Regions from separate parts of the Homo sapiens genome. Here region 2 is linked to region 1. Evidence: fine-mapped expression QTL. Tissue or cell type: whole blood. Region 1 holds a variant in brackets; the other region holds the start of a gene. All regions are shown on one strand. Distances are between the middles of the regions.

Region 1 (2,686 bases):
CACTGATATTAAATCACTTTGCTCTCTACTAACAACAGATGCCCCAAATGATAACAGAGAACACCTTGGGGCAGGCTTTGGCCTCTTTCCGAAACCCAAGAGAAATATTTTACATCCTCAGACGCAATGAGGATTCCTTTAAAATGAAATATACAATCAAATTAGGGGATGTTTCTCTCGACTTTGTGACGTGAGTGGGAAGAGTAGAACACAGCTCACTCTCAGAGGACCCAACACCAGTGGGCCACTGCCCTTCTTGGATTTCTTTCCTGTAGCAAACCTCCTGACCTTCACAACGTGGACTGTCAAAAACACTTCCATATGTCAGCACCCACTCTCAGAATCGGCTTATATCAAGTTATGCTAAGATGACTGCATGCCTAAAGCTATTAAGCTGAGCAGGCAAATACACACAAGGACACAAACTCCAGTTTTAGAGATGACAGTCACTCCTCGCACAAAGAAATCTTGCTTCTGGTTTGCAAAACTCATCCTGGTTTTACGTTAATTATCAGTGACAGGCAGAAAGAGGGAGAGAACTTAGTCATGATCCCTGGGACTACGGCCAGAAAGACTAAAAGAATTCCCTTTCTTACAGGAAAGTCCACATGTGACTCTGTGGCCACAAGCAGCACATCCCACTGCCCGGGGATGCTGCCCTTCCTGAAAGAATGGTGGAAAGGCCAGGCCTGCACAGCTACAACACCTACCATCCGGGTGACCACTCAGTCCCTCCCCTGACACCAATACCCATACATGTCCTCACTCTCCTGAACCTTTACATAGGAGTTTGTGGGTCTTCACTCACCCAGGTCTCCTCATAACCCTCTGTCCATTTCTTCCTTATCTCTCAGCTCTGTTCTTCCTCGCAGCCACCCCTCCCCACAGTATTCCTCAATTCGTCCTCAGCACTTGTCTATGCGCCCTGCTTTGGCTGGTACCCACTTCCACAGCTCCACCAAGCCCCTGCACACACAGGATGCCCAGACCAGCCTCAAGCCCGGCCCCTTCCGTCATGCAAGTTCCAGACCTGCACTTCCAAAGGCCTCCAAAGCACTGGTTCTCAAAGCGGGATTCCCAGAGCAGCAGCAGCAGCATGACCTGGGTGGGCACTCGTTAGAGACACAGATTCTTGAGCCCCCGCCCCAGATCTACGCAATCAGAAACTCCAGGAGGGGGGCCTGCAATCTGTATTTTGACAAGCCTTCCAGATGGTTCAGATGCAAACTAATGTTTGAGAATCACTGCGCTACACACTTCCACTCACCTATCCCACTACTGTCTCAAAGAACCCTCAAATGGAAGTTTTCTTTTTCTAAATCCAGCTGACTTCCCTAGTTCTCTGCTATTACCAACATTTCCCCATAATACAAGATCCAAACAGTATAACCTGAGGTCAGGTTATAGCGAGCCTCCAAAACACAACAGATATTTAAGAAACTCAATACTGGCTTGTGACTGTAGAGAATGAAGAAAATTCTC[T/C]GTGGCTACAAAGGAAAAACACTGCCGTGCAGCTTGGGAAACAAGGAACAAAAATGCACTGACTCGTGAAAAATGTCTTATTAATCTACTCTTTTTTTACTTTCTTTTTCTTTTTTTTCTTTTTCTTTTTTTTTTTTTTTTTGAGGCAGAGTTTCGCTCTTGTCCCCCAGGCTGGAGTGCAATGGCGTGATCTTGGCTCACTGCAACCTCCGCCTCCCGGGTTCAGGCGATTTTCTTGCCTCAGCCTCCCAAGCAGCTGGGATTACAGGCACGCCACCACGCCCAGCTAATTTTTTTATTTTTAGTAGAGACAGGGTTTCACCATGTTGGCCAGGCTGGTCTCGAACTCCTGACCTCAGGTGATCCTCCTGCCTCAGCTTCCCAAAGTGCTGGGATTACAGGCGTGAGCCTGGCTTTGGTCTCGAACTCCTGACCTCAAGTGATCCGCACGCCTCGGCCTCCCAAAGTGCTAGGATTCCAGGCGTGAGACATCGCACCCAGCCTTAGTCTACTCTTCTTTTGGCAGTACTTGAGAATAAAATAAAGAGTACCCTAATAAAATATATAGACAATGTATTAATATGATTTTTAAACTATATTATTGTATATTTTAGTAAGTAGAATTGACGGGGTTTTTTTTTGTTTTTTGCGACAGGTTCTTGTTCTGTTGCCCAGGTGGAGTGCAGTGGTGCAATCACAGCTCACTGCAGCCTGGACCTCCCAGGCTAAAAGGATTCTCCCACCTCAGCCTCCTGAGTAGCTGGAAGGACAGCACACGCCACCATGCCTGGCTAATTTTTCATATTTTTAGTAGAGACTGGGTTTCACCATGTTGGCCAGGCTGGTCTCGAACTCTTGGATTCAAGTGATCTGCCCAAAGTGCTGGTATTACAGGCATGAACCACCTCATCTGGCCCTGACAGATGTTAATCAATAAATATTTTGGTGAAAGAGTTTAAAATGTCCACCATGTACACTAGTCCGTTTGTGTGTATGTATTATTAACATTTTAGTGTATGATTATTTTCATGGACATTAAATCAGCAGGTAGAATAGTAAGTCCCTGCTTACGTACTCCCCATCAACCCCAAGAAACTACGTATTCATTAATTCTTCATTCAAATCTTTAGGAACATCAGGTATTACACTAGGCCCAGAGGCCTAAGCCGCAATAAATTCCAAAAGAGCAAATGGCTCAATTTAC
Region 2 (2,686 bases), 95 kb after region 1:
CAAACACAATGTGGGCCAAATAACACGTGTGGGAAGTTCAAGCCTAAAGTACAAACTCCGGAGAGCAACACAAATATGGCTTGGACGTGGCCTGCCTCTTTCATCTCCCCTAATACATGCGGCGTACCAGCCACTCTGAAGGGATCCCCTTCCGCCTTCCTGGCCTTTGCCCAGACGGTTCCCTCCTCGTGAAACACCCTCTACCACTTCCTTGGCATCTTCAAGACCCTCATTAAATACCATGTCCTCCCCTTGAGGAATCTTCCTCATCCCCACAGCCATTCTTTGGGTTTCCTCCTTTCAAGCCGTGGCGTAACTGGGTCAGATATTTCTTTGTACCCCCCAAAGGAAGAAAGGGGAACTAATTTGAAGTTCTGAAGACTTTATCTATGTTATTCCCATTTAATCCTCACACCAGGTCCGCAAAATGGGCGTCACCTTTATCTTCTCCCTACAGAAAACAAAGCCACGTCTCAGAGAGGTTAGGGGAATCCCCCAAGGTCACACAGCTCTGCGGAGTGGGGCAGAATCTGGAATAAAGGTCGGGTCAGTTTCCAAAAGCCAGGGCCCCTGCTGCTCTAGCTATTCTGCAGCTCTGAAAGTTTCACCTCGTTCCAGGAAAGCATTTCGTTCAAAAAAATCCAGCCTTGAAAATATTAGGTGTGCGCGCGCCCGTGCGCGCAAACACACACACACAACACACACGCTATATACAGATACACACAGACACACACATTATGTGTATGTATATACTAGCAGATACCATCTATTAATATTACTGAAACAAGTTATCGCAGAGAAGTGACAAGCATGGAGACAGCCGCACACCCCTCGGAACCGGTCCCCTCCACCAGCCTGCCCTGCCTTCGCCCGTGCCTTGACCCGCAGTCGCACCGCAGGACAAAATGTCCCCTTTTCCTTCGGAAAGCAGAAGCCAGTGTAAATGCAACCGGGAGAACCAGAGAAGGGAGTTGCAAGGCCGCTTCCGCCGGGCCGCCCTGAGAAGGAGCGGGGTGAGCTAGTCCAGCGCGCGTACCCGGAGCGACCCCGGCGTGCGCGGCGCCTCCCTGCGCAGGCGTGCGGCGTGCGGCCCGCGGCGTGCGGCCCGCGGCTGTTCCCGGCGCGGATACTTACTGCGCGGCGGGGCGTGCAGGTCGCATCGATGTCGGTGCGCAGGCCACGGCGGCCGCAGAGTGGGGCCAACTCTGCCGGCCGCGGGACCCGGGTGAGGGTCTGGGCCTGGGCTGGGCTGGGTGACGCCAGGAGGCCGGCTACTGCGCGGCGCCCGAGAGTCCACATGCTGCTCCGGGTCTGCCGCCCGCTCCGCCCTCCAGCGCTGGGTGCTGCGGCGACCCCTGGTGGCCACTGGCCGCAGGCACTCTTCTGTGGGGGAGCAGCTAGAGGTTAGACCTCAGGAAGAACTTCCCAGCTTAGCACTATTCGTGCATTTAACAAAAATGGAGAGCCTGCTTTGTGCAAAGCACGGAGTGCAACCAGGACCCCTGACCCAAGGGAGACTGCAGCCTGGTGGCCCGCCGCTTCTAAAATTCTAAACAGGAGGAACTTGGGAGCTGCTGTCTTGCTGGGAAGTGGGTGCATGCACAAATTGAGGCTGCTTGGCCGCCGGTATGGGTTTACAGCAGTTGGGTATGTGGGGCCAGGAGACGGATGCCTTGTGTAAATCTGTACTCTGCCCACTTCCTAGCTGTGTGACCAGAGGGCAAGTTAATTAACCTCTCTGTGCCTTGTTTATAAAATGCGTTTTATAAAAGTTCCTACTTCATAGGATTGTGGTAAGGATAAAATGAGTTAAGCCCTGTAAAGTTTTTTTTGGACAGGGCATGTTCCTGTTAAGTGCACAATAAATATTGTTAATAGATTTTATTGATTGATTGATTGATTGAGACGGAGTCTCGCTCTGTCGCCCAGGCTGGAGGGCAGTGGTGCGATCTCGGCTCACTGCAAGCTCTGCCTCCCGGTTTCACGCCATTCTCCTGCCTCAGCCTCCCGAGTAACTGGGACTACAGGCGCCCGCCACCATGCCTGGCTAATTTTTTGTATTTTTTTTTTTTTTTAGTAGAGACGGGTTTCACCGTGTTAGCCAGGATGGTCTCGATCTACTGACCTCGTGATCCACCCGCCTCATTTATTTGTTTGTTTGAGACAGAGTCTCACTCTGTTGCCCAGGCTGGAGTGCAGTGGTGTGGTCCTGGCTTACTGCAACTTCTCCCTCCCGGGCTCAAGCAGTCTTCCCATTTCAGCCTTCCAAGTAGCTGGGACTACAGGTGTGCACCACCACACCCAGCTAGTTTTTGTATTTTTTGTAGAAAGGGGGTTTCGCTATGTTGCCCAGGGTGGTCTTGAACTTCTAGGCTCAAACGATCTGCCCGCCTGGGCCTCACAAAGTGCTGAGACGACAGGCGTGAGCCACCGTGCCTTGCCTATTGTTGATAGATTTTAAAAGAGAATTTTATTTCTGTTACATATTACAAAGGGATGCAAATTGTGAAAGTTTTCTTCACATTTTATATATGCTTTAGAGGATGTCAAATGTGAGCCGAGTGTGGTAGTGCATGCCTGTGATCTCAGCTACTCAGGAGGCTGAGGCGGGAGGATCACTTGAGCCTGGGAGCTCAAGGCTGCAGTGAGCTATGATTGTGCCTGTGAATAGCCACAGCATTCCAGC

Evidence for each region. PIP is the estimated chance that this variant, and not a neighbour inherited with it, causes the effect.
Region 2: it holds the start of FXN, and the variant in region 1 is fine-mapped to the expression of FXN in whole blood (TOPMed, PIP 0.92).

The regions. Positions count from the first base shown.
Region 1 is chr9:69,128,954-69,131,639 of GRCh38, reverse strand. It overlaps a transcript of TJP2 not described here. Among named protein-coding and RNA genes, the nearest start is that of TJP2, 44 kb to the left of the region's middle. RefSeq lists an enhancer at 451-980. The variant T/C (reference allele first, on the strand shown) is at 1,483.
Region 2 is chr9:69,034,396-69,037,081 of GRCh38, reverse strand. It overlaps FXN (frataxin), which reads right to left and starts at 1,330. Exons shown (of 5, transcript NM_000144.5): 1 at 1,135-1,330. The coding sequence starts at 1,299. RefSeq lists silencers at 95-389, 972-1,441 and an enhancer at 762-811.